3 linked regions of the Homo sapiens genome follow. The protein of the gene in region 2 interacts with the protein of the main gene of each other region in a biochemical or structural test. Each region holds a gene or a part of one and is shown on either strand. Other genes may lie near its edges. The genes, in order: ORC2, RFWD3 and RPA3.

Region 1 (9,824 bases), on a different chromosome or scaffold from region 2:
TGACAATGTAACTGTGAGTGTGCATGTATATTCACATTAGTGTACATTTTAAGCACTTCCTTATGTTCAAGTCTTTTTAACTGCAAGGATAAAAGTAATTATCATAAAAAGAAAGTATTATGTTTTGATTTCAATCATTCTTCTAGGTGTTTTAATGGAAATTTAAAATTTAATCTGAGGTGTGTGAAAATAATAACAGTGAAAAAATATTCTAGGAAATAATGTTAAAATAGTAAAATAATGCTTATAGAACAAATCTGTTCATAAAATTCTGAAAGTCTGTAGTACACATACATAAGATTAAAGTAAATATTATCCTTTCATTTAAAGAACTATGCTGTGGAAAACTTTATAATTTTTTTTTCTAATTGTTATATTTATTAATCTTGACAAAGGAAATATTCAAGTTTTTTAAACCAATAACATAATTCTAAGAAATGCTATTTATCTTATCAATGGCTGTCAAGTCTGATAAACACAAATTTCTTAAAAACTGTAGAATTTCTGGGAAGAGTCATACAATAAAGTGACATTTCTATATCTGAGTCATAATGTCTATTTTTACATTTATTTTTATATATGACTAAATATCTGAAACTCACTGTAAAAAGAAAAATGTTAACTTACTTTAACATAAAGATTCATGTAAATATTATTCTTTATTTTACAAGGGTTTGTAATGATAATACTTACTGTAATTGCAGCATCCATTTATGAAATAATTTTTCATACTGTTGATTTAGTTGTTTAAGTTCGGCAGAAAAGGAAGGGGAAACCTTGCTCAATAAGTTACGCAAAGTTTGCTTTAAAAAAAAGGAGGAGGGGAAAAAAGTCATTCTCAAAGCACAGACAGCAAATCAATCCAAACAATTTCCTTAGAAGTAGAGCTTAGAAGAAGCCAATCCAATTGGAATATTACTTTAATCTGGTTTGGCAATGAGTATATCAACCGATAAACAAAATTCTTAAAAAATAATTTTTTTGTTTTCTTAAAATTGTTAACATTCTTTTTAGTAATAACAGTAAAGAATTTGGTAAGTTTTGTCCAGAACCACTTAAATGATTATAAACTCCAAGAATAGGCTTTACTTTCTCAGAAAACATTAAAGGTTCTTTATAATTTACTTACTATTATCATTAGTAAAATAAACCTATATCACTGCTCCTCTTCCAAAAGCTGTTTCTAACAAATCCTTTATCTTTGGTAAGTATTGCAAATTTTTAAAAACAATAATATAAATAAACTGAGGAAAGTGCATTGCCCTGTACCCCAAACTTGGAAATTCATGCTGATGAATCAGAGATCATTTTTTGAAATGAAAACTCTAGCAAAAAGCTACACATGGGTCTTCACTTTGGCACTACCATGTTTTCATGATTCCACCACCTTTCAAGTAAAATATTATTTAAATACTGAAGATTAGAGTTGCGATAAATATTCCAGGTACTCTGGCTTGTACTGTGTTTATTTAGTCACAGTTAAAGCAAACAGAACTACCTTTAAGTAAAATTGTTAAGTAGGTAGTTAAAAAAAAACAACTCTTATCTCTTCTGAGTTCAGAGCCCTGAAAAAGCAGAGAAAGCACTAATATCTTTTCCAGCAGTCATTTACACTAGATTATCTGAGCATATTCACACTTGAGTGTGAACACTAGAATGTTATCTCATGTATGTACTTTCATTTCAAACTTTTTTTTTTTTTTTTTTTTTTTGAGACAGAGTCTTGCTCTGTCACCCAGCCTGGAGTGTGGTGGCACAATCTCAGCTCACTGCAAACTCCACCTCCCAGGTTCAAGCGATTCTCCTGCCTCAGCCTCCTGAGTAGCTGGGAGTACAGGCGCGTGCCACCACGCCTGGCTAATTTTTGTAGTTTTAGTAGAGATGGGGTTTCACCATGTTGGGCAGGCCGCTCTCAAACTCCTGACCTCGTGATCCTCCCGCCTTGGCCTCCCAAAGTGCTGGTATTACAGGTGTGAGCCTCCATGCCCAGCCTCATTTCAAACTTTAATTAATATTCATGGAAAACTGCACTTTCGACCCCAATATCCAGCTGTACTAGAATGAAGCAGAACTGGCAATCTAGTTTTGAGCCTGGGCTGTAAGAGATTGTGTGTTTTCCCACTTTTCCTCTTATGCCTCTGCCACTGTCATGAGGATAACATGCCTCAGCTAGCCTGCTGGTCCAACGAGGAAAAGAAACATGGAGCAAATCCTAGATCAGCCAACTTCTGACTGACTTGCAGACATGAAAAATGCTTATTGTCACATGCTACTGAAGATTGTATTGGTTAGCTATGCTATGTTTACGCCCAATGAAAGGCTTTCGTCTCCCTCACTGACAGGTGTTTCTTTCATCCTCCTAGAGATCTTTTTGCCTCTAAGTCTGATGAAGTCCTATTGTGAGTCTAGACTCATGTGTCCTTCTCCCATATTGCTTATATTCTCTGATCCGAGTCTCAATACCAATGAGCCAGGACTTAGATTATCAATTGCAATTATTACTGACAAAGATTTTCTCACTCAGATGGTTCTGTCTCCTCTCACAGAGATGTAAAACCCCAGCAAGTATAACTGTATGGTATTTTTTTTTTTTTTTTTTTTGTAAAATGAGCTACTGGAACCATGGTACATAGTAATCTTGTTACCTTACCACACTGGGCAGGTTTTCCATAATATCCTCAAGCAGAATATCCTCTACTTTGTGCAAAGTTTTTAACTGAGAGAAAGTCAGGTTGCAGTTGCTGTTTTATGACCAGTGTGAGATTTAGTGAATACATATAGGTTAAATGAATAACAGAGATAAATGGTAAATGGATATCAAGGAACTATGACCCTGATGATTATCATAGATCCTGAAGAAATAATAAACGAGTAAGAGGGGAAAAATGCATAATTACAGTCTGTCTAATCCAGTAAATTATTTATTTATTTATTTAAATTTTTAGTAACAACGAGGTCTCCCTATATTGCCCAGGCTGGTCTCAAACTCCTGTGTTCACATAATCCTCCTCCCTTGGCCTCCCAAGGTGCTGAGATTACAGGTATGAGCCAGGTGTGCCCGGCCTATTTACTATTTATATAATAAAAGAAGTAATAATCACATTAACTTGTGTTTCATTTGATCAGGACAATAATTCTACTTGTGTATACTTTTCAAATCTGTTGCTTACGTAGCATATTTTTCAGGACAGAGTAAAAAAAATTTAGAAGTAACATTCCTTGTAACATACCTGATCCAGTTTAGCTCTCTTTAGCTTCTGCAGTGTTCTATCAGAGGTTAAAACTTTTGAACTGCTGTGAGCTTCAAAATATTCTTCTACTAAGTCACTCTGAAAGTGAACAGAGTAGTCAGTCCTTAGTAGCTTCAAATATCTGTCTCATATCAAAATTAGACAGTAATATTAATGTAAAATAGGACACGTGAAATTCTTTACTTGGTAGTATTTTCTTTTTAAAGCAACAGTACCAGTTAAGGACCAAGCATATTTAATTTCAGTAATAAAACTGAGTAATTACTAGGATCATATAAGTTAAAGAAATGACTAGGTGAAGTAGTAGTCTGTTCCTAAAAATGATTCCTAAGTTACAATATGTAATTTCCATTTAGACTAAAAAAAGAGAGATGGTTTTATATATCAAGATCTTTGTTTCTCCTCAAGTAAGTCTTTTTTTTTTCCTTTCTTTATTGAGGAAGGGTCTCACTCTGTCACCCAGGCTGCAGTGTAGTGGTGCAAATACAGCTCACTGTACCCCCAACCTCCTGGGCACAAGGGATCCTCCTACCTCAGCCTTCCAAGTAGCTGGGACTACAGGCATGCACCACTACACCTGACTAATTTTTTAAATTGTTTTTTTTTTTTTTTTGCAGAGACAGGGTCTTATTATGTTATCCAGGCTGGTTTCAAACTCCTGGCCTCAAGCAATCCTCCCACCTTGCCCTCCCAAAGTGTTGGGATAACAGGCATGAGCCACCATGCCTGGCTTCAAATAGTCTTAGCAAATCCTTTAATATTAGTATAGCTGAAGTACTGTGAAAATGAGGAAATCAACTGCAAGGTAACAAAAGAAAAAAAAGAAACCCACAAACAAATAAAAAAACTGGCCTACTATTCCAGTCAAGCGGAATTTTCTTCTCACACTATTTGTTCTTCTGATTTTGGGCAGGACTAAACTCTAGGGTGGTAAGGAAGGGACAGAAAGCTATTTAAGCAGTAGGCTCCTCAATTGCTCTGAACCTTTAGACAGAGCACCAGGATAATTAGCCTTTTCTAAAACCAAGGTGCCTGCAATGTTCTTCCAAATGACTCAACATGGGTCCCTAGCCACATCATTCATTACACTGACTTGAATACATTGACAATGGTACAAAAACAAGATACACTGAGAACTCATGCCTCCAATTGTCCAATCAATATTTACTTAAAAGTTCATTTTTTATTTTTGTTATTTTTTATTCTAATCCCATAGCTTATTTAAAAATTTATTTATTTATTTTTGAGACGGAGTTTCGTTCTTATTGCCCAGGCTAGTACAATGGCATGATCTCGGCTCACTACAGCCTCTGCCTCCTGGGTTCCAGCAATTCTCCTGCTTCAGCCTCCCGCGTAGCTGGGATTACAGGCACACATCACCACACCTGGCTAATTTTTGTGTTTTTAGTAGAGACAGGGTTTCACCATGTTGGCCAGGCTGGTCTCGAACTCCTGACCTCAGGTGATCCACCCGCCTTGGCCTCCCAAAGTGCTGGGATTACAGGCATGAGCCACTGTGCCCAGCCTAAAAAGTTCATTTTTATACAGTGGAATTGAGATGTCACTTTTAGCATATACTATTTAGCATATACTATGGTATTAATTCATGAATATGTAGACAGGCCAGAAAAGAAAGCCCAGAAGTAGAAACAAATATATGTGGGAATTTATGTGGAAGGCTGAGAAAATATAGAAAAGTGAAGAAAAAATATTATTTTGAGAGATGTGGATCTCTTAGGGTAGCCTATCTTTGAAATATTACACAATTTTTCTTTAAGGTTAAAGTCTCTCTCTTCACTTACTGTTTTATCTCTTTTCATTCTCTTAGAAGGTGTTTCTTTGCCAACAGGAGCTGAAACTACTCTATTCTGAGCTTGAATCTTTTGGCTGAATATGACTGCATTAGTGTCCTCTTCATGTTCCTGTGCAACCCCTTCATCATCCTCTGAGTTGGAAGCAGAATATTCGCTTTCACTGTCAGAATGAGACCTTGGAACTGTGGGGGGAAAAATAGCAATTTGGACAATTTCATGGTTTGACAAGAGAGGCATTGTGGGGTAAAGCAAAGAGTGGGGGCTCTGTAGTAAGAGTCTGAATTCTGGTTTTGTCATTACCTGCTCATGATTTCACCAGAGCTAATTAACAAATTCTCTCAGCACCAGTTTATTTATCAAATTAATAGTACATAGTTTAATAAACCATTAGGAAGATTACATTGAAATGTATATAAAGCCACTAATAATTCCTGACACACAGGAACTGTGATAGAAATTGTTAATCATACCTAACACCGTTCTCCTTCCCTCTTCCTTGCTAACAGAACTCCAATTTTGCAAAATATGGCAATATGCCCCATCCTAGGGGATGAATCATGGTAACTGCCTTTTTCCTCTTCAAGGTACCTGCTTTCCCAGCCTCTGCTCCAACTATGGTTGACTATGTGACCCCTTGACCAGTGAATTGAGGGAAAATAGCTGGCAGCTTCTGAGAAGGATTTTCCTCAATTACGGAAGAAAAGCCCCTATTTATACCCATCGTTTAAAGCTATGAAAGCCATTTTGCAATATGAAGTATCAAACCTAAAGATGAAAAATGCTGGTGGCAGAGTAAAAGATAGGAAGAATCTGGGTCCTTAATGATACTGTTAAGTCACATCAACCATGGAACTTGCATCTCCATACTTGTTTTGATGTGAGATACTTAAATGTCTATGGCTTAAACTACCATTATAGAATTTTCTGTTGCTGCCTACTGAAAACGTCATACTAACTAATATAGCACTCAATAAATGGTACTTATGATTATAATTATTACTAATACATACACATACACCATCCCAGAGTTGATTCAAGAATTGTCTTTTTAAACAAACCACAACCTCATCCCTACAACTCCCCAGAAATAATATAGCTAGTTTTACATTTATCAAATAAGAATAAAGCCAGTTTCACACTAAACAGGCATAAAACTGTTTTTAAAAGCTAACTTCCAAAATATGAGTGAAAAAACTTAAACAAATCAGCATATTTATTCTGAACAACAGATATACTGCAGAGGATTATCCCAAGTCAGCATGTAACAAATGTAGATATTAAAAAAAAAAAGAAAAAAAAAGGCTTGATTTTGTGGGCATATATAGCTCAGCAGATTCAGGTGTGCATTGACTGCTGCTCGTGGTACATGCACAGTTAGAAGTGGTGGCAGGTACCAGAAAGTATCTCTACCTTCTTTACATGTATGCTTCCTCCATGTAGGTATATATGTTTTGTGGTGATTAAGAAGGAAGAGGGAAGTTCACCTTCTCTCTAAAAAACAACCCATATTTGGGATGAGGAGAAAACATAAGACATGGGATATAGTTGACATGAAATAACAATCACAACTATACAGATCTTTTACTGCTTTAATATACCAAATCATTTAGCATTACCAATTTTATGGTGATTAAAAATACAGTTTTAACAACTCTATGAAATCCATACCTTGAAAAGAAAGGGCTATGAAGTATGAAGCCCTGATGTTAGGCTGAATTTAACAATGTTGACTAATACTATTATTGTCAAGGGTCAACATTATGAAAGGTGTTGACATCTTCCTGATATATAAAGGTCCAGTCATTTGCCTCAAAGTTCAATATTCAAAAATCTGAAACGATTTTTAATTTCCTAGAAGGCAGAAGCCATGTCTGTTTACTTGACTTTGTTTAGCATTCAGTACAACTATGAATATTTAATATTATTTCATTATAAAATTTCCAAATAAATCAATAGAATAATTTCCAAACTGTCTCAAAACAATTAAAAGGCATGTTATTTCATTGGAAAGACCTTTTAGCTGACTTCAATATACACTGACTACAATGTGAAAGACATGGTGCTAAGTGTTGCAACTAAAAGCCAAAGATTCAAAACACCAAGCAGTCTAAGTCTAGAACCTATATACTTAACTATTATTGCCTCTTGTTTAGATGCTACTTTTTATAAAAAGTCATGTAAAAACAAATACGTACCTATTAATCTTTTTCTTAGACTACGAGGTGCTGTTGACAGAAATTCACTTTTGTCATTGTTCTGTTTAGAAATAGAAAAAGCATTAAATAATAACATGGAAATTAATGACTGATCTGAGTGAAAGAGGCTAGAAAAAAAGAAAAATATTTTGCTTTCAATAGACTGCATTAGAACTAGATGAGCTTAGTTCCTAGAACTAGAAGATTATGACAAATGGGTTCAAACCATTCTCCTGCCTCAGACTCCCAAGTAGCTGTGATTATAGGCACGTGCCACCACACCCAGCTAATTTTTGTATTTTTAGCAGAGACAGGGTCTCACCATGTTGGCCAGGCTGGTCTCAAAACTCCTGACCTCAAGTGAACCGCCCACCTTAACCTCCCAAAGTACTGGGATTATGGGTGTGAGCCACAGCGCCCGGCCCAATGGAGTATTTTTTTAAAAGATAGTATTATGTAGCAATCATAAGTATGAAAGGGAACGGGCACCCCTATGTATATGGCAATGGGCCTTTTAATGTGCTAGAAATTTACTGGTGTTAAAGTATTACATTCTTTGAGGAGAGAAGGAGAGATTTACACTTTCTTACTTTCTGTATTTAAAAAATTGTAACTTTTTGTAGGAGTACAAAGTCTGTTTTTTTATAGAATACTTTAATACCATAAATTGTTAGCACATTAAAACATCCACTGTTATATACCTGTAAATTTCTAATAGTACTGATAAAAAAGTTAAAGTACCCTGTGATTTTGTCAACATGACAATATGACAAAAAAATTTAAGTTTATTGTCTTGTGATAGATTGCTGGTGTCATTAAAATCTGATTTGATTTTAAGAATAGTACTCTAGGCCGGGCACAGTGGCTCATGCCTGTGTAATCCCAGCATTTTGGGAGGCCAAGGCGGGCAGATCACCTGAGGTCGGGAGTTTGAGACCAGCCTGACCAACATGGAGAAATCCCGTCTCTACTAAAAATACAAAATTAGCCGGGCGTGCTGGTGCATGCCTGTAATCCCAGCTACTCGAGAGGTTGAGGCAGGACAACTGCTTGAACCTGGGAGGTGGAGGTTGCGGTGAGCCGAGATCACGTTATTGGACTCCAGCCTGGACAACACAATGAAACTCTTCCTCAGGGGGAAAAAAAAAAAAAAAGAATAGTACTCTAATAACTGAGCTAATCCCTTACCAATGGAATTACAGTATGTCTCAAATTTTTTGATCAAGATCCTCAAAAATTTTTACATTTTGTCATCTTGACCCAGTACACGTGTATATATAACTAAAAAAAATTATAAAACAGAAATTTAAAATTCTGTTCTACTTCATTTGTTAAAAATGCAGTTTATGTCCTATTAAACTGATTTCAAGATTGAGTATTGAGATAACTTATATATATCTACACAGCTTAAGTCTGAGAATTCACAACACCTGTGTCAAAATAACCACTGCAGAAAATTCCTGCTCAAAAAGACAAGACTAATAAATAATTTTTTCCTACTTGCTATAGAACATTTCTGCAAACTAATCTCTCTTGACAGTTTGCTCATTTGGGCAAACTGTTCTCCCTATCAGGACAACAGATTACTCCTAGGGCAAACAGCTTATCTTATCAACAGTTTAGTTATCAAGATACACTTTAAGACACGATCTTCACTGTGTCTACCAATCCTAAAATATCATGTCCCTAACTTTGCCCAATCCCAATCAGTTTACCATTTTGAAAAACCTGCTTTAAGCCACTTGAGCCCAGGATCCCCAAGCCCGATACATATTTTCTCTTGAACTTGCTTTTCTAAGACAGTACACTAAGATTCTGTCACAACGATGTTGTCTCTTATTGTGATAGGTAGCTTTGTTTCATCAACAGGTTTTTCTGGTTTTTTGGGAGAGTTGACAATATCTTCTAATGGGTTATAATCTATAACTTGAGAAAGAATAATCTAAATTCTTGATTAGATTATGGCAATGAGTTTTTTTCCTTTTATAGTGATAGAACACACAAGACATAAGAAAAAAGCATTATTAAAGACAAATGAAAGTCTGGCATGTCTAATCCCATACCTAGACTTGTCTAAATAGGACATTCCTGCACAGGCCATAACCATGGCCTTAAATGTCTATACTGACTGTGGAGACAAAAGTTACTCCATCTTGGATGCTAATCCATCACGTTAACTTCTGATTAGCCCCAGTCTCATGAATGCCTCCTGATTCCTACTTTATGTACTGCCTTCTGTGAAAGAACATGTCAACCTTGATATTATCACACAAATTACTGGCTACAATGCATATAGCATTCTTGCCCTCTTGACAATTAAAGAGGGTTGCCTTTAATTATCTTGCTGGAACATGTATACCCTTTCCTTATGGTAGGTAAGCCGTGGGTCTGGGGAGTAACACTGCAGAGAGCTACCTGTCTTGTGGCTGCCCAAGACCATGCTTCTGTCTCTAATAAAATACCCTTTACAGACAAACTAAACTTGTCTGCCTTGTCCTTTGGTTTCTTGGCTCCTTTGGCATTTGGGGGATGCTTTGCATATATGGCCCTTTCATGGAACACTC
Region 2 (8,465 bases):
GTAGAGATGGGGTTTCACCATGTTGGTCAGGCTGGACAAGGCTTTTTTTCTTTGGAGAAATCACTCACGATCGTATGAATTTGCTTCCAAAACATCCAAATTTAATGTACTAATGCAAGGACTGGTAAGACTTAAGATTCACATAACGTCCCTCATAGTTAAGTCTCTTGCTTCCTACTATTAGTGGAATCAATCAGCATCAGGTACTTCAAAGAAAGTCAAATCCTAAGCCTGCCCAGGCCCAAAGACAAAGCCAGCCAGGACCTGACCACCTGTATCCTCTTGGTGGCAATCTGCTGAAGCCAGATGAGTTCTGCTTTTTAATTCCAATCCTATTCTGCCACTGAAACTAGGCCTGGGCAACCACTCTTAATCATTAACATATCAAAAGGAGTATCTCCTCTGAGAAAAGAGCTTTTCTCAGGTTCTAGAAGCTAGCTTTTACAAAAGACGTCTTCAAATAGGGGCCGGGTGCAGTGGCTCACGCCTATAATTTTGGCACTTTAGGAGGCTGAGGTGGGAGGATTGCTTGAGGCCAGGAGTCCAAGACCAGCCTGGACAACGTAGTGAAACATCTATTTCTACAAAAAAATTTAAAAAAGGAAAAAATTATGTCCTAAAATATTAAAGGGTCATTAAAAGGCACAACTAGAACTTGGAACTCTGGGGAAATCTAGTGCAACAACCCCTTGCCGGAGAGAAAGATCCTAGAAACAGCTCTTGAATTGACAGGTCAGAAGTGTTTTATAATAAAAACGATAACAACTCTTCAATAATCATTTGAGAAAATCAGACTGTTAAGCCATTTTCTCCCATGAACAGGACACTGACCTGCCCACATCTTGAAGCATATTCTGTTGTGGAAGTGGGTTGGCAAAGTAGTCTGAGGCAAGGCAAAGAAATACAAACTGAGCCCTAGAAAAGGTTAGGGAGGCAAATCAAAGGAAACTGGAATCAAACATCAGCTTCACATGGGGAAGGCTTTAACTGGATAACTGGAATGTATAAAGAACACTTAAGAACAGCCCCTCAGTCTGAGGAATTGGCTTTATTTAGATAGGAACTCTCAAAATGGGAGACAAGTTCTTCTCATGTTTTCAATAGCAGTCTGAATAGCTTTTGTAAATTCTCTTATGTCTTTTCTCCTGATCTCTGACACTAGGGGAGACTCAAGTAAAAGCTTTGACCTATCACTCATCTTTTCCTGGCAAGAGATAGTGTTCTTCAAAGCACTAGCTTGGATAAAACCAATCCTGAGATCCTAAGCTGGCTAGAAAAAACAAAATCTTCCCCACCGCTCAAACAACTGGCCTCTTTCCTTACCTTTCGCAAAGCAATGAACTTAATGCACTAGGCATTAGCAAAGGGAATCGTTCACTAGCTGCTTCCATCACTGGGCCTGCCAATGTCCCAGCACTTCACACCTGGAACACAAGTGTTATTGCCACAAAGCACACCCAGGTGTGCTATCACACACTTGTGTGGAGATGAGACAAGTTACTAAAAGATTGTCAGCCTTCAAGGTCAGAAATAAACCGGACACAAGGTTCTACAGTGCCCTCTTGTGTTCAACTGAATAATACTCTTTTACATCTACGTTGCATCAAATCAGTACCAAGACGATGGTTAGTCCCTTCAAGGATACTTAAGTGACAGGACAACTCAGATGGGATGTCATATTCCCCAGAAAATGCTTGATGCCCACTCACATCCTAGATGATGAGAGGACACTCTCTAAGGTCCAGAAAGTCACACAGAAAATAAAGAAAATAAGAATTTCCAACATACAATAATGGTTAATGAAGGCTTTAAACCCAAGAAATGGATAATGTAGATAAAGTACCCATCAATTACTCTTTTAGTGGACATAACAGATACACAATCTGTAGTGTCTCAGTGACCTAGGGTCCTAGAATCATACTAATGCAAACAAACCATGATTCCCAATGTTCTAGACTGCAGACAATAAACAGGGATCTTGCTTGGGGCTGCTAGGCGCTAGCAAACAACATCTAACCAGCAGCATGCCTTCAAGGTTTCGAGACCACAGTCACTCCCACTTATAGATGTGGACCATCTTCTCTGTTAAGGTAGCCAAGTAGCTGTTACGGTTCACCTCAAATGGGCAGATGTCCAACACAGGCTGATCGGTCTGTAGGTCCTGGAGCAACGAGCCACTGGCAGCATCCCACAGCTAAAGAACACAAGCAGAGGGAAGGGTCAGGAGTCAGTCAGTACACGAAGGGACTTCCATTCTTCATCATCTAACAAGTCTGAAAGGCTGCAGAGAGAACACTACCTGGAGAGCAAAGCAGGCTGTCCCTAACCTTTGCAAGGTTGTTCAAAGTCAGCACACCTGACATAGTTCAGGTACAGCCTCACCTACTGTAATCAGCAATTAGTCTACCTGTAAGTGGACCTGAAATAAAGCCCAGCTTCCATTCATTCAATGTGCCAGCCTCTTCTAGGGACAGAAGGGTCAATAAGATAAAGTCCCTGTCTTTGCCCTCATGGAACTCACCCTTTTTTTTCTTTGAGACGGAGTCTCACTCTTGTCACCCAGGCTGCAGTGCAGTGGCACGATCTTGGCTTACTGCAACATCTGCCTCCTGGGTTCCAGCGATTCTCATGCCTCAGCCTCCCAAGTAGCTGGGATTACAGACATCCACCACCACGCCCGGCTAATTTTCTTGTATTTTTGGTAGAGATGGGTTTCACCATGTTGGCCAGGCTGGTCTAGAACTCCTGACCTCAGGTGATCCACCCACCTTGGCCTCCCAAAGTGCTGGGATTACAGGCGTGAGCCACCGCGTCTGGCCTCTAAAAATTTATTATTGGCCAGGCATGGTGTCTCACACCTGTAATTCCAACACTTTGGGAGTCTGAGATGGGAGGACAGCTTGAGGATAGGAGATTGAGACCAGCTGGGGCAATACAGCAAGAATCCAATCTCTACAAGAAAAAATTAGCCAGGTGTAGTGGTGCATGCCCGCAGTCCCAGCTACTCAAGAGGCTGAAGGAGGATTGCTTAAGCTGAGGAGTTTGAGGCTACAGTGAACCATGATTGCACTACTGCACTCCAGCCTGGACCGAGTAAGATACTGTCACTTAAAAACAAACAAACAAACAAACAAAAAGAAATGAAAAATATTTTGAAGTATTAAAAAGTAGAGCTAGCCGGGCATGGTGGCACACACCCATAGTTCCAGCTACTTGGGAGGCTGAAGCACAAGAATCACTTGAACCCAGGAGGTGGAGGTTGTAGTAAGCCAAGATTGCACCTCTGCACTCCAGCCTGGGCAACAGAGCAAGACCCTGTCTCAAAAAAAAAAAAAAGTAGAGAGGGACAGAAAAAAAAAGGTAGAGAGCACGGTGGCTCATGCTTGTAATCTTAGTAGTCTGTGAGGCTGAGGTGAGAAGACTGCTTGAGCCCAGGAGTTTGAGACCAGCCTGGGAAACATGGCAAAACCCTGTCTCTACTAAAAATACACAAATTAGCCGGGTATGGTTGGTGTGCACCCAGCTACTTGGGAAGCTGAGGCACAAGAATTGCTTGAACCTGGGAGGTGGAGGTGGCAGTGAGCCGAGATTGCGCCTCTGCACTCCAGCCTGGGTAACAGAGCGAGACCGTCTCAAGAAAAAAAAAAAAAGGACAGACCAGGCGCAATGGCTCACGCCTATAATCCAACCTTTTTTCTTCTGCCATTGACTTGTTGTGGAAGCCAGATCAGCTGTCTTATAGAACGCCCACAACCCGGACTTGTGTATATGCTTTCTGTGCTATCATTAAACTTGTTCTCCTCTATTCCCTGCAACTCCAGTCAATGAAAGTTAGCGCTAGCTTCTAGAGTGGCACTATACAATATGGTGGCCTCTAGTCACACAAGTTTATATTTAACTTGATTAAAATTAAACATTAAGTTCTTCCTTGGCACTAAGCACACTTTAAGTGCTCATGTGACTAGTGTGACTGTACTGGACAGTGCTACTCTAGGCCTTAATCAGACTCAGGTTCAAGAACATCTCAGCTGGGTGCAATGGCTCACGCCTCTAATCCCAGCACTTTGGGAGGCCAAGGCCGGCAGATCACTTGAGGTCAGGAGTTCCAGACCAGCCTGGCCAACACGGTGAAACCCTGTCTCTACTAAAAATACAAAAATCAGTCGGGCATGGTGGTGGGGTGCCTGTAATCCCAGCTACTCAGGAGGCTGAGGCAGGAGAATCACTTGAACCCAAGAAATAGAGGTTGCAGCAGTTCAGTCAAGATCTACAAAGCAATACGGAAAGCACGACTCATGGAAACCAAGCAATCTCACATACACACATATGCGGATATGTGGGATTACAGAGCAGAACTTACACTTTTTTGCTATATGAGCTTCTGTAAAAAAAGTTCATGTTTTCCCTTACCAATATTTTAAGCAAAACTACTTTTTATATGAAAGTAAAAAAGTAACAGGCTCACCAGGGCAGAATTTGCTGCTTCATCCCCAGTACACACCAGGATGTTGCCATCATTCTCTGGGCTTTGGAAAATGGCATTTTTGGTCAATAGTTTGCAAGTAGGTCCTCCAAAAAATGTATGTACAGGCTGGCAGGAGCAGATTGGATTTCCAGTGTCATCCAGTCGGTAGGACATTTCCATCAGCACACTTCGTATGGTGGTGTGATTTTTATCTATGGGACAGAGAAATCAGTGCTGCACCATGGGGACGCTACACAAAAAATTAACCAAGTACCCAAACCTCACACGCTTACAACCTAGTTGGATGGAAAAGCCATAAATGCATTAAACCATCAAGAACAGTTACAAAACAAATGAAAGAACAATATCACAGCATCAATGAAATTTAGAACCGTAGGCTAGCATCAGTGAAATTTAGAACCATAGGCTAGGAATCAAGTTATCTACAATAGCTTTTTGCTTAAGAGAAAAACAATTCTGTGAGTTGTCTGTTTTAGTAAAATCAGTCTCCTGCCAGACCTCTGCTAGGGGATTTCTCTCTCAAGAATTCTCAGTAAAAGGTTTTTCCCTTCCCCCAGTGAGAACCTCATTAGCCCCTGGGACTGCACATTTTTATAAAGTGAAAGCATGCTATTACAGAAAGGGAAACATGTATCTGAAATTCTGCTGGGAGGCAAACAAAAGCAAGATAACAAAATAGGACCCCCAGGCTTTGTACACCAGTCACAACAAATCACAGTCTTGGAGACAGCCGAGCTGTGGGATGATGAAGAGCCAAAGGGTCTGAAGTGGTACTGGGATGTTTCTCAGCTCAAACAAAACTTAAAAACATGAGTAGACCCACCCACAACTAGCAGAAGTGTGAGCATTTAATGACTAACTCTGACTATACATCTGCCTGACTGTTACAAATGTGTTTAATACAGTTGTTACCTCAGCATCTGTTTTTAGGGCTAGCATAAATTATTTGAAACCCAGATGTACCCTGTCAACTTTGGCCTAGTTAAAACATCCCTTCCCTGAGCAGAGGTTTGAAATATAGCCCACTTGTCCCTCCCCTCCACCCCTACCCCACCCCTAAGGGAGCAGGCCTGTCCTGGATGGCTCCCCCTTCTTCCCATTGGCCCCTGAAGCATGCTGCCCTCTTCTCTGTGGGATCTGTCAAGTAAGCTGATTCCGTTATTTCCTGTGTTTTGTGCACTGCCTCCTTTGTGTCTCACCTGACCAACACACCTGAACCTAACTTGTTTCCTAGTCAGGGCTCTTCTAGAGAGTCACTATCTCAAGGGAAATGAACTAGACACAGTTCAGACAAGAGCCACAAGGGTACCTGCCAGTACAAACAAGTTTCCTGTGAGAGGGACATCTGGTCATGGGTCAGGCAGGCATTAGGCCATCTGCCAGGACAGAGGAGTATCCTGTGAAAGGCAAACTATGAACACCCACAACGAACTCCCTAGTGTTTGGCAGGACAGGGCTAGAGTTTATAGCCACTCTCCTGACAGAGACCTCAAGACCAAATTAGAAAGAAAAAACCTAGAACACTGACCATCAGTACAGTTTACCAGGAATTTAGATTCATGCCGCTTAGCCTAGAAAGAACCTGTGAATGAAGCACAGTCTGCTGTTATGCGTTCCACCTCTGATTCCAGAGGCAGAGATGTTCAGCTGGCTGGGCACACACAGCCACTGTTGTCCATTTCAGTATGCCAGCCGGGCTACTACATGGCTGCCCTAATCTGGGCCTTTCTCTCAGGGGAAGTAAGAGGCAGGCAGAAGATACGAAAGTGATCTCAAGGTGGCTCAATGACCTAGAGCTGGCCCCCTTGTTCCACTACTGTTCTAAACTGTAGGGGCTCCTAAGTGGCTAATTCACTTCCAGGAGTACCTGGCAGAATATGCTCCAGTCCTCACACGTAAGGAGCAGGGAGGCAGGCTCTGTGGGGGAGCTTGGAGCCACCATACTCCCTGTAGTAGCAAGAGCTACAACACACCTCGTTAGCCTGTGAGCGGTACCACAGCCACCCAAAGGGTAGGATCAAACCCTCCTTCCCTTTTCTCTACCACTGTGCTCCCAAATAAGCTATGGGAGACCCCAGCACTACTTACCAGGCCTGTAGGTCACAAGACAGTGCCGGGAGCTGTTCTCTGTCTGAAAGTCTATGCAGCCCCCTGGCTCCAAGGGCAGCACATGAGGCCAATGAGAAAAGTCCATTTTCTGTTCCCAGAATGAAGCATCCTCCAAGGTTCCAGCCAGCACCCCACCATATGGAAATGCAGCTGAGGCAGCTCTGGGCATGTATGACAGGGAGACCAGTGGGCATCTGAAAGGAAAGTAAGGAAACTGTATCTCACACTCCAAAACTCGGACGGCTCCAGACCCCACTACCAGACCTCAAGCACATTCCCACCTCTGCAGAGGAGGTTAAACGCCTTTAGTCACTATCCTCTGATATCTGATAAAAATTATCAACCCTCTCTGTAGAAACAAAAGGACATACATATAATATTCTGCAACTAATTTCAGGTGAGATACCAGATGCTCTAAAAGAAAAGGAAAAAAAGAACTAGGAAATTTAAGGGATACAAGATCACAATTACTATGAAGCTTGACTGATGTGAAGCTTCTGGAAATGGGTTTAGCCACATAAGAAAAGTCAGAAAAGAAACAAAGCTTATATACATAACAAAATAAAGATCCCAAGTTGTAGTTGACAGACCCCACAATTAAAATACAGCTAAAAGCAGCTACATTTTAATTCAGAAACAGGACTGTTTTAGGTTTTCTAAATTTCCTTCTGCAAGCATATGACCAGGACTATGCGCCAAGAATTCTCTCAGAAATATCATCCTTCCGACTGTGTTCCTATCAACTCATTTCTGCTATGAAGTCGTTCGTGCCAAAGTTGCCAAAGTGTCTACTTTGCCTGTTTTATTTTCCCTGTCACAATAAAGGTAATCAAAGTAAACAAAAATAAAAATGAACATTACATACAAATATTCTTTCCTTGCTATTTTAAAACTTGCTGTGTTTGGCTGGGCATGGTGGCTCACGCCTGTAATCCCAGCACTTCGGGAAGCCGAGGTGGGAGAATCACTTGAGGTCACCGGTTTGAGACCAGCCTGGCCAATATGGTGAAACCCCATCTCTACTAAAAATACAAAAGTTAGTCAGGTGTGGTGGCACACGCGTATAGTCCCAGCTACTCGGGAGGTGGAGGATGCAGTGATCCAAGACTGTGCCACTGCACTCCAGCCTGGGTGACAGAGTGAGACACCATCTTAAAAAAACAAAACAAAACAAAAAAACCACTACCACCAACAAAAAAAAAAAACCTTGCCATATTTTACTGTCTACTCTATTTGGGCCTAGGTTTCAGTAAAGAATTATTACTTTAGTGGTATCTTTATGTTTGGCTCTCCTTGCTCTTTTTAATATATCCAGTTGGAAACATAAATTATCTGTTAAGATACTTCAGATTTTGGCCAGGTCACAGACCCTACTCCCTTTTTGATAACTTTATACCTACAGGGCAGCTCAACACATTCTAAGACAGAGTGGTGCTGGTGGCCATCCATCCTCAGAACTTGGGCTCACTTTATAAACTTCTCAATCTCATAACTGGATTAAATGATAAATAATAATAATATGGTATCTTCAAACAAGTTGGTTTAGCTTTGGATTAGGGAAGTTTTAAATCACTTTTGATTAGGTTACCCTTAACTGATCTCTTCCTATGTGCTAGACATGTGGCTATTTTTTTTTTTCTTGAGATGGCGTCTCACTCTGTTGCCCAGACTGGAGTGCAACGGCGCAATCTCGGCTCACCGCAACCTCCGCCTCCGAGGCTCAATAGATTCTTCTGCCTCGGCCTTCTGAGTAGCTGGGATTACAGGCGTGTGCCACCACGCATGGCTAACATTTTTTTGTATTTTCAGTAGAGACGGGGTTTTACCACGTTGGTCAGGCTGGTCTCGAATTCCTGACCTCCTGATCTGT
Region 3 (5,414 bases), on a different chromosome or scaffold from region 2:
GACTGAAAGTTGCTTCCAGGTGTCAGTGAGTGAGTGGTGAGTAATGTGAGGGCCTAGGACATTATTGAACCCTACTGTAGACTTTACATACTTAGGCCACACTAAATTTATAAAAATATATTTTTCTTTCTTCAATAATAAATTAACTCTTGCTTATTGTAGCTTTTTTAATTTATGCACTTTTAAATTTGTTTTAACTTTTCTTTTTTGGATGGGGTCTTGCTGTGTTGCGCAGGCTGAAGTACAGCAGCATGATTGTTGCTCACTGCAGCTTCGAGCTCCTGGGCTTGAGCTATCCTGCCACTTCAGCCTCCCAAGTAGCTGGGGCTATAGGCATGCACCACCACACATAGAACACAAAAAAGGTACAGTAGGGCAGGTGCGGTGGCTCATTCCTGTAATCCCAGCACTTTGGGAGGCCAAGACAGGCAGATCACGAGGTCAAGAGATTGAGACCATCCTGCCCAACCAACATGGTGAAACCCTGTCTCTACTAAAAATACAAAAATTAGCGGGGCATAGTGACACACGCCTGTAGTCCCAGCTACTCGGGAGGCTGAGGCAGGAGAATTCCTTGAACCCGGGAGGCAGAGGTTGCAGTTAGCTGAGATCATGCCACTGCACTCCAGCCCAGGTGACAGAGCGAGCCTCCATCTCAAAAAAATAAGTAAATAAATAAAAAAGGTACAGTAAATTTTTTAAAAACATTTCACTCTTTTTGAATAACACTTAGCTTAAAACACGCTGTACAGCTGAACAAAAATATTTTTCTTTGTATTCTTATGAACTTTTTTCTATTTCCAAAATTAAATTTTCTTTTTACATTTTAACTTTTTTGTTAAAAACTAAAACACAAGCACACACACTAGCCTAGGCCTATACAGGATCATCAATATCACTGTCTTCTACCTCCATATCTTGTCCCAGTGGAAGTTCTTCAAGGGCCATAACATGCAGGGAACTGTCATCTCCTATAACAAGGTCTTCTTTGGGAAGACCTCCTGAAGGACTCTCCTGAGGCTGTTTACAGTTACCTTTTTTCCTGTAAGTAGGGGTACAGTTTAAAATAATGATAAATAGTAAACACATAGCCAGTAACATGGTATTTTATTATCAAGTATCATGTACCATACATAATTCTATGTGTCATACTTCTACATGCAGCCTACTGTGCGGCTTGTTTACACCATCATCACCACAAACATGTGAGTAATGCATTGTGCTAAGATGTTACGATGCCTTTGTCTTTAGACAGGAATTTTTCAGTTCCATTATGATCTTATGGGACCACCATCATATATGCAGTCTGTCATTGACCAAAGTCATTATACAGCGTATAAACTGTACAGTTGTCTTCATTTCATGTAACAGAATGCTTTACCGTAAATGGCTATGGCAATGCCCCTCAAGTAATGAGCAGAGTATTTTTGGATGACAGAAGTTGAAATTTAAGATTACACTAATTAAAACTAAGTATTTTTGGTATAATTTACAATAACCTATATGGATTTAGAATTATTTCCTTATTCAAGGGAATGGGTCAAGCCATAAAACTTAACTGGCCACGTAGGTCATCGGTTATTCTATACTACCTTATTCCAAATCTGCCACATCTTCCCTGCTCACCCCCAACATGGTGCTAGAGAGAGATTCCATACTAAAGATTAGACAGGTGAAAAGAATAAAAAGAAAGTCAAATGATTCCACCAACTCTTTCAATGATCATATATTCCTTGTTTGGAATTTAGTAAATGCTATTTTAAAACCCAGGAAGGCTGGGCATGGTTGTTACACACCTGTAATCCCAACACTTTGGGAGGCTAAGGCGGTAGGATTGCTTGAGGCTAGGTGTTTGAGTCCAGCCTGGGAAACACAGTGAGACCCCATCTCTACACGGAAATTTAGGAAAATCTAGCTGGGCGTGGTAGTGCCCACCTGTAGTCTGAGCTACTTGGGAGACTGAGCCCAGAGGTTCAAGGCTGCAGTGAGCTATGATTGCACAACCGTATTCCAGCCTGGGCAATAGAGTGAGATCCTGTCTCTACAAAAACAAAACCAAACCAAGCCAGAAAAAGAGATACTTCACAGATTACAGAAGATGTAAGATTCTGTTTGCCTTTTTTTGAGACAGAGCTTCACTCTTGTTGCCTAGGCTGGAGTGCAATGGTGCAATCTTGGCTCACCGCAACCTCCGCCTCCCAGGTTCAAGTGATTCTCCTGTCTCAGCCTCCTGAGTAGCTGATATTACAGGCGCATGTCACCACGCCCGGCTAATTTTTGTATTTTTAGTAGAGACAGGGTTTCATCATATTGGTGAGGCTGGTCTCGAACTCCTGACCTTAGGTGATCCACCCGCCTCGGCCTCACAAGGTGCTGGGATTACAGGAGTAAGCCAGCGTGGCCAGTCTCTGTTTGCCTTTTTAATGTCATCTACTTCATTTTGTAAGTAGGGTATCAAGGAAATAATTATCAAGGTATAGTTTGGGAAAAGGTGAGCAAATCCTTAACACAGCTGGCCCAAGGTTTTATTTGGTAGGTCTAAATCTTGACCTTATGGCTATGAAATTTCAAGTTTGTGCTTGAATACATGATTAAAAGAATGAAAATGAAATGACCGATAGTACGTACCATTTTAGTTTTTATTAATAAAATAGAAACTTAGACTCGGACAACTGCTTTATTCTTGCATCTAATCTGACCATATATTGGAGTAGCAATTCTTTATAAAAGGACTTCGGTGAGAACTGTCAATATATCAGTTCCATCAAAAACTCTAGGTTGGAATATCTTAAAAACAGCAAATTAAATATGAGAAAGCACAGAAATCTCTCCCTCAAACAAGAAGGGCTTCCTTTAATAGACTTTAATATAGCTCATTTACAATCGTATGAAAATCCATCAAGATCAATCATGTTGCACAATCCCTAAAGGATAAAACTGAGGGAAGTCATGGATAATTTTCACAGCTTCATTGTAAAGTCCAAGATCTGAAAGAAACATTTAAGCAAACATTTAATCTACAATGGAAAGTTGTAACATCAATTATTATCTAAGATATTTTTACCTATTTCCTTTTTCTCACCCTTTTGGAAGTGAGTTTCTAAAAATGGAGATATGGATTATGGATTCTTGTATTTAACTGTGGCACCAAAAAAAAGACATGGGAGTACCATCCATTTTGATGTTCATTATACAGGCAGTTTCTGCCTGGTAGTGTTTTGGGTGTTATGCATTATTCAATTCCTTCAATTCAGATATTACAACAAAAAAACTAATACTATTTTTGTTATATTTAAAAAAATTATCTTTCAACAAACATTAATTAATCTTTACTGAGTTTCTTACATATATAAGCACTACTTAAAAGCAGGCCAAAACAAAATGTACCCCCATTTGCCTTTACGATCACAAAATTCTATAGAAATTGAAAATGTGGCAGTACTAAAACTCTAGACCAATATATATCAAACTAAAAATAAAACTGTTTTCCTGTATGTTTATGTTATGTAATTGTATGTAATACATACAATTTTGTATGTAATACAAAATGTATGTTAAAACATAGTTATATAAAACTGTATGTTATGTAATTACATACAGTTATATAAAACTGTATGTTATGTAATTACATACAGTTATATAAAACTGTATGTTATGTAATTACATACAGTTATATAAAACTGTATGTTATGTAATTACATACAGTTATATAAAACTGTATGTTATGTAATTACATAAAACCAGTCAATACTAGAATGCTTTATTTACCAAAAGGATGGCTATCTTCTTTAAACTGGACATAAGATGTACACAAGATGGTGGCCTTGGCGGTTACTCTTCCAACCACTTCCACAATTCCAGAGATTTCTTCATCAAGCTAAGACACAGAACAAGACATCGATTTGGTGATATCACATTTTCAGTTGACAATTATTTTGGAAAACTGTTATACAGGTTACTAATCTATCACTTCAAGTAACAAAGTAATTTTAAGAATTACCAGTGTAAAAGTTAAAATGTAACTTGTTAACAAATGTTTGAGTACTTAACTGTCAGCATGTTAAAATTCCTGCTACCTTTAGCAGTAGCTTCAAGTCCAAAGCTACAATTCAAGTTAAAGACAAAATCACTATTGAAAACGTCCAGCATTTCTATAAGCAGTAATATCCTATGAGAGGAATCTTCTATAATCTGTATTTCACAATGTGTTCTGTATACATTAACCAAACAGCATATGGATTTGTCTTCACAAAATACCAAAAAAAGTTTTAAGTATGTTAAACATAAAATGCAAACATAAATAAGTAAAAACTGGAAATATATGAACAAAAATAGAAAATAAAATAAAATCGAAAACTCTTGAGGGGCTGGTCGAGGCAGGAGGATTGCTTGAGACCGAGAGTTCAAGACCAGCCTGAGGAACATAGGGAGATGCCATCTTTACAAAAAACAAAACAAAACAAAACAAAACAAAACAAAACAAAAATTAGCCAGGCATGGTTAAGCATGCCTGTAGTCCCAGCTACTGGGGAGGCTGACATGGGAGCAACTTGATCTTGGGAGGCTAAGGCTGCAGTGCGCCATGATGGTGCCACTGCATTCCACCCGGGGTAACAGAGTGAGACCCTGTCTCAAAACAAAAAAACAAAAACGAAACAAAAAACCTCTTGAGGAAGAAAAAAGCAACGTAAATTTTTCTTATGTGATTTTATGGTCTTTCATAAGGAATGAGAATTGTTATCCAACATTTATGGGATATGTTCAAAAATCATGACGCCCAAAAAATCATTGGTTAAAAATGTAAAAGGAAATATAATGAGAGAATAGTACAAGAATTAAATTTTACAGCCAGGGACGTTTTACCAGCTCATCCTTTTTAAATCCATTGCAAAAATTAGAAACATCGGCAACAAACCAAATCAAGATGAAGAATTAACTATAATATATAAGAGACTTATTAACACTTAAACATACGGGTTCCATCAACTCGATGGTTCCATTTTTTCCTTCTCCATCTGAAAGAATAAACATTTTTCCGGTGGGATGAATCTAAAAACGAAACATATAATTAAAATCTCACTAAAACAACAACAAAGTTTGACTAAAGATGAGTACATTGATCCTTAGTTGAGCACAAATCAACTGTTTCTTGAACAGTTTATTCATTCAGTTTATTCAACTTATTGGATCAAATTATAATCTTATGTTATCAAATCTGTTCATGGAACACACAGTTAATTTCTGAATTTCAGATAAACAAGGATTTTTTTTGTAGTGTTAAGTAGGTTCTGTATTTGCTAAATATGGCAACCCTATTCTGATAACAAATTAAAGGATGCCCACCCTAAAAGTGAAATCTGCTGGCACTCATGATTTAGACAGTACATATCCCACGGAGGGTATGTTTTAAAAAA

What was found.
Region 1: the proteins of RFWD3 (region 2) and ORC2 form a complex in vitro, tested with the Homo sapiens proteins (one study listed by BioGRID).
Region 3: of the proteins of RFWD3 (region 2) and RPA3, one has a biochemical effect on the other in vitro, tested with the Homo sapiens proteins (one study listed by BioGRID).

Annotation. Positions count from the first base shown.
Region 1 is NC_000002.12:200,930,646-200,940,469, forward strand, and holds part of ORC2 (origin recognition complex subunit 2), read right to left. Parts: intron 7,322-9,824; coding exon 7,261-7,321; intron 5,248-7,260; coding exon 5,054-5,247; intron 3,330-5,053; coding exon 3,231-3,329; intron 804-3,230; coding exon 694-803; intron 1-693. UniProt on the Homo sapiens protein: Component of the origin recognition complex (ORC) that binds origins of replication. DNA-binding is ATP-dependent. The specific DNA sequences that define origins of replication have not been identified yet.
Region 2 is NC_000016.10:74,621,878-74,630,342, forward strand, and holds part of RFWD3 (E3 ubiquitin-protein ligase RFWD3), read right to left. Parts: intron 6,790-8,465; coding exon 6,575-6,789; intron 4,678-6,574; coding exon 4,466-4,677; intron 2,195-4,465; coding exon 2,051-2,194; 3' UTR 1-2,050. UniProt on the Homo sapiens protein: E3 ubiquitin-protein ligase required for the repair of DNA interstrand cross-links (ICL) in response to DNA damage. Plays a key role in RPA-mediated DNA damage signaling and repair.
Region 3 is NC_000007.14:7,634,096-7,639,509, forward strand, and holds the end of RPA3 (replication protein A 14 kDa subunit), read right to left. Parts: intron 5,050-5,414; coding exon 4,975-5,049; intron 3,878-4,974; coding exon 3,769-3,877; intron 2,988-3,768; coding exon 2,905-2,987; 3' UTR 2,423-2,904; downstream 1-2,422. UniProt on the Homo sapiens protein: As part of the heterotrimeric replication protein A complex (RPA/RP-A), binds and stabilizes single-stranded DNA intermediates that form during DNA replication or upon DNA stress.